Linked DNA regions of Homo sapiens: region 1 is linked to region 2. A link means that fine-mapping ties the variant in region 2 to the expression of a gene that starts in the linked region. Tissue or cell type: thyroid. Region 2 holds a variant in brackets; the other region holds the start of a gene. All regions are shown on one strand. Distances are from middle to middle.

The links. PIP is the estimated chance that this variant, and not a neighbour inherited with it, causes the effect.
Region 1: it holds the start of PCDHAC1, and the variant in region 2 is the best candidate, but not a certain one, in a credible set for the expression of PCDHAC1 in thyroid (GTEx, PIP 0.62).

What each region holds. Positions count from the first base shown.
Region 1 is chr5:140,924,901-140,927,586 of GRCh38, reverse strand. PCDHAC1 (protocadherin alpha subfamily C, 1) reads right to left here and starts at 1,288. Exons shown (of 4, transcript NM_018898.5): 1 at 1-1,288. The coding sequence starts at 694. All of the region lies in intron 1 of PCDHA1 (protocadherin alpha 1), which reads right to left. All of the region lies in intron 1 of PCDHA2 (protocadherin alpha 2), which reads right to left. All of the region lies in intron 1 of PCDHA3 (protocadherin alpha 3), which reads right to left. It also overlaps PCDHA4, PCDHA5, PCDHA6, PCDHA7, PCDHA8 and PCDHA9, and 5 more genes. RefSeq lists an enhancer at 148-705.
Region 2 is chr5:140,962,427-140,965,112 of GRCh38, reverse strand. All of the region lies in intron 1 of PCDHA1 (protocadherin alpha 1), which reads right to left. All of the region lies in intron 1 of PCDHA2 (protocadherin alpha 2), which reads right to left. All of the region lies in intron 1 of PCDHA3 (protocadherin alpha 3), which reads right to left. All of the region lies in intron 1 of PCDHA4 (protocadherin alpha 4), which reads right to left. It also overlaps PCDHA5, PCDHA6, PCDHA7, PCDHA8, PCDHA9 and PCDHA10, and 5 more genes. Among named protein-coding and RNA genes, the nearest start is that of PCDHAC2, 2.7 kb to the left of the region's middle. The variant T/C (reference allele first, on the strand shown) is at 1,100.

The DNA.
Region 1 (2,686 bases), 38 kb after region 2:
CAGGCGCGTTGTCATTTGTGTCCACCACAATGATGGTGACTTGTGCGTCTCCTGAGCGGGCAGGTAGCCCGCCGTCCCGAGCTGTAAGCACCAGCAGGTGGGTGGCGCGCTGTTCGCGATCCAGTGCTTTCTCCAACACCAACTCCGGGTATTCGCTGCCGTCAACCCGCGATCCCATGTCCAGGCGAAAGTGCTGACTGGGGCTTAGGCTGTAGCTTAGTATCCCATTGCTTCCCTCGTCGTCATCTTGGGCATTCGGGAGAGTAAAGCGGGCTCCGGGCGTCAGGAACTCGGGGATGTGCAGCTGCACGTCGCCGGCAGGAAAGAGAGGTGAGTTGTCATTGGTGTCCAGGACGTGAATCCGAATCTTGTGCAGCTCCAGCGGGTCCTCGAGCACCAGGTCGTAGGTCAAGACGCAGGCAGCTTTGGCCCTGCACAGCTGTTCGCGGTCCGCCGGCTCTCTGACCACCAAATTGCCGCTGGGTAGATCCACCCCGAAGTAGAGCTCGCGGTGGCTGGAAAGGAAGCGAAAGTTCCGCGAGGACATAGCGGCCGCTGGCAGCCTCAAGTCCGCGGAGAGATTGCCTACGGCTACGCCCCGCTCCGTCTCCTCCGGCACTGAGTACTCGAGCTGTCCCGCTGCAGCGCCGCAGGAAACCCACAAACATAAAACTGCCACCCCACAGCCCACCATCCTCCCTCTAGGCGTCCACGTTCCACCAACACGCTACACCAACGGTGACCCAGGACCATGCTCCGGACTCCTGGAGAGCACGAGCCGCGGGGAAGAGCACGCTCCTGCCGGCCGTCACTGCTGCGGGCTGGATACTCAGCGACCGCCGACGTTGCGCCTCCCGAACGCCGGCATTGCCGGGGCTGGCCAGCTGGGAGCCGGGCTTGCTAGGCTGGAGGCTGGGCAGCCGTCTGGGAAAGCGGAGCCGGCCGGGTGTTGAGGAGCGCAGCGCCGCCTAGGGGTGCAGAGACGAGGCCGCCCGCCCGGGCGCGAGAGGTGCTGTCTCCAGTAGCAGCGGGCTGGGGTCTCGACCACCACGCTGGCTGCGGGCGCAGGGCGGAGCCTGGGAGACGCCCCGAGACACTAACACTTCTCTCCTTAAACGGTGTTTTCTAGGACAACGCCCTGAGGCTGCCCAGATCTTAACCTCCACATCCTCTGCCCGCAGATTGCTGATAACTGTGGCTGAGCCCAGCTGGGCTCTTCCTGCCGCCCTTTGGGAGCCGCGCGTCGGGTCCCGGCGCTCTGACCCCGGCGCACCTCTCCGGCGGAGAGGGCGGGACTCAGCGTGGAGCTGCCGAGCGGAGGCGGCGAGAGGCGGGACGGTGAACGTGAGCGACCACACCTTCTAGGCTTAAGGAAACAGGAGCCCCCCGAAAGAAGTGCTGCGGGGGGCTTTCCGCGCTGGATCCTGCTGCAGAGCTTTCCGCGCTGGATCCTGCTGCGGGTTGAAGTCTGTCCTGCACCCTCTTGTATCCCAGGAGCTGCCAAGAGGGCAATAGAGACGACAAGGAGGGGAAGAAGGTTGGGGAATAGTGTCCGCATCAAACTGCCTCCGGACTCTGGCTTTTCGAGGCAGCGGAGCCAGCGAGCTCAAGGCTTTTTTTTTGCGTGATAGCAGTTTCTCCTTCTCCAAGAGGCTCTACTTGGGAGTGCTTTGCAAACGGCCCTTGACGATCTGGGTGAAAGAGGAGGTTATAAACCAGTCAATAGCAATAACTAGAAACTCAAAGACTTGACGACCCGTCCCCAAAGAAGACGTGAGAAGTGGAGGGGAAAGTACTGAGATACTCATTAGAGTTTGACCAGGAAACTACTCTGTAAATTTTCTTTCTGTAAATATTTAGAAAACACCATGAGGCAGGATAAGAATAGGCTAGATACCCACCCTCGCTTTATTATTATTATTATTATTATTATTATTATTATTATACTTTAAGTTCTAGGGTACATGTGCACAACGTGCAGGTTTGTTACATATGTATACATGCGCCATGTTGGTGTGCTGCACCCATTAACTTGTCATTTACATTAGGTATTTCTCCTCGCTTTTAATTTGGTCTTTTGCGTGGATATTGGGACAGTGATCAGTTCTATGAGAAACATCTCTGAGCCACAACAGATACACCCAAATTCTGCCTAACACCCTACAACCAGTTCCTTTCCCTAAGAAGGAGGCGAGCCAAAAGGAGACTCATTGACTATTGACTATGAAGCACTAAATTCCTCACTCAAATCCTTCTTTTAATACAGGTGCAATATGTCCAAAGCCCCAATAATGAAACATTTGAAAGGCAAAATCTGAACACAGATCAAGAATTAAAGTTTCCAGGACATATTTTCTGGTAGAAACCTGCCTAAAAGTATCGATAATTATTGAAGCTGGGTGATGGTACATTGGGGTCAATTACACAATTCTCTCAACTTTTGTGTATGTTTGAAATTTTTTTTCCTTCCTTCCTTCCCTCCTTCCTTCCTTCCTTCCTTCCTTTCCAGATGAGCGTGTTGCTTTGTTGCCCAGTCTGGTCTCAAACTTCTGGGCTCAAGCGATCCTCCCATCTTATCTCAGCCTCCTAAAGTGCTAGGATTACAGACATGAGCCACTGCACTCACCTTGCATTTTTTTTTTAACTTTTTATTTTATTTTATTTTATTTTATTTTATTTTATTTTT
Region 2 (2,686 bases):
TATGGGTCATTTTCTAGCTATGGACTGGAACAAAGTCAGAGTGAGACCTGACATTTGGCATGCTTCCCTCCTAGAGCGGACAGTTAAAGGAGCCAAGGTTGTGATCCTGACACCCAGAATTCAAAGGCCTGAACTAGCACATCCCTTCGTTCCACCAACCAAGCACACTCACTATCAATGCTCCACTACCTAGCCAGTGTTATTCCAGAGAAGCGCCCAGCCTCCTATCACTGCTGCTTCTTATTTGTCCTCTTTGTTTCCTCAAGGGTACAGAGTAGGAAGCAATTTTCATCAAAATCTATTCCTGTCTCCTTTCTTGGGTCTCTGGCTTCTTCCTCTTCTCTCTGCATCCTCCCCAAACATCCCTACAATAATTCTGTCTCAGTTTGCTGTGGTAATTTGATCTCGGAGGCCTTAATCTCTCAAGTGCACAAATTGTGGACCTGGCCTGTGTCCTCACCCATTACTTGTTTCTGAAAATAAATGGCTTATAAGTGGAATCAAGTTGTAAGTTGTCATGAAAAGTGATCTTTCCTCCCCTTATCTCCTCCCAGCCCTCCAAGTCGCTGCCATCTCTGCACGCAGCTCAGAGACCTGGCCACTGGGTATTGACCAGGCATAGACCTGTGACTGTGAAAAAATCATAGGCACTTAAGGAAGAGATTACAGTGGCAGAGGCTTGGTAATTTTTTAATGGAAGCCCCCAAATGTCATGTCTTGGGAGAAAAACCAGGACTCTCCTTTCAGCACTCTTGTCATCTTCCAGCAAGGACACCTGCCAGGTTGTCCATTATGCTGTTTTAGGCCTTGTAGGTATTTAGCTCCAGCTAGAATTTACTGCCTTAATTATTAAGGAGTCAAATATAAAGCCAACACAATCAGCCTCATTTTGAAAGACATTGTACTAAAGAGATGGTATACTCTATTTGGCACTATAATGATTTCGTTCCTCACACCATTATACTGAGGCTCCTGCCAACCTTACTAGTTGTTAGAATGTGATTGCTCAGACTGTTGTTAATTACCCTTTCTACAAATATTAACACTAATGCCTTGACCACACCATTATGCATTCCTTTCCTTGGACCTTCAAGAGCTC[T/C]CTATTAAAAAGTAGAACACAGTAATTAGGAATATAGACTTTGGAGTCAGTCACACTCCTGCCAGTGACTAACTGTTTGGCTATGGACATGTTACTTAGCCTAAGCTTCACTTTACTCATTTTAATTAAGGAAAACAATAGTAAGCAAAACTCATACGGTTATTATTATGATTACATGAGAAAATGTATGTAAAGCAATTTGCACAGTGACTAGTTAAGTACATTATTGTTGTTGTTGCTGTCGTCATGAAATACAACAATTTATTATCATCAGATAAAACCTTAGTTGGCAGTCTATATGTAGCATGGCCCTTTAGATATCAAACACGGATAAACACATTTAACTATGCCATATAGGAAATCAACCATGATAGGGAAGATGCGTATGCAACAAAGTTAAGCTTTCCCAATTACGTCTAGAACTATATCCTACATTTTGAGAACAAAACCAGAAAACAGCCCCTTTTTATATCATGAAGTAAATGGGACTTCTGTTATGAGAACCCCTTCAAGAGATTTGTTTCCTCACAAGAGATTTACCTTTTTAGAAAACACAGAAATACTTTAGCAACAGAGTATGAAGTTAGTTCCTAAACATGCTGTAATCTACAGCATCCAGTAGGGAGCTTGGCACAGAGGTGCTCAATTAATGTTCTTTGAAAAGAACTAAATTTACAAATTTATCTGTGTAATTCTAATACAAACAGCTTCTTATTTTCTCTCCTCCTTATAAAATCTTACATACATTTCAAAGTCCAGATGAAAACCTACCTAATCCATCAAACAGTGTCTACTCTAAACACGAGGTTTTTTTTTTCATTTTCACAGTCTACAGCATATCTGTAAGATGGCATGTGTCATTTTTAAATTCATCCAAATAATTTAATATTATCTCTTTAATTATAAGCAACCTGAAAGCAGGAGCCATGTCTTATATTTCTGTCTCCTTCACAATGTAGAAACCCTTATAGACTCTCAATAAATGTTAATTGCTTCATTTTCTTCAGATCTTATTTTTAGTAAACTCAAGCTGCTACAGAAAAATTTCCTATATAGGGATAGAGCATATCTTATGGAGAGGAGGTTGAGAAGTATCTGTCAAATAGGGAAGGAGCTAGTTTTCATTTTTTAATTCATGTATTTATGTTGCTCTACAAACCGAGCACAAGTTATATAATAAAAAAGAGACAAATGGTCATCTCTGATGTTTAGAGTTGTCCAAAGTAGTTTTTAAAAATTCCATCTTGTTAAAAACGAATAGGATTCCTGATCTTCATGCATCCCCAGAAGGAAAATACTTTCCAATATGATTATAGCATTATTTACAGATAAAACATCCAGTGGATGGGAAGATGAAAAAGTTTTCACATAACTTGATGGCTAAATTTTTTCACATCTCCCTTCCTCCAGAAGAAATATATCAGTCAAATATTTGGCATTAACAATTGGCTTTTAGGGGGAGATCCTCTACATTTTTAGTTCTAAAAAACTAATATATTATTGATAGTTGGCTGAGGTGTCTGAAAATTGCTTAGAATAAACAAAGAGATTCAAGCCATAAGAGATTCAAGCCATCTTTGGATAAGT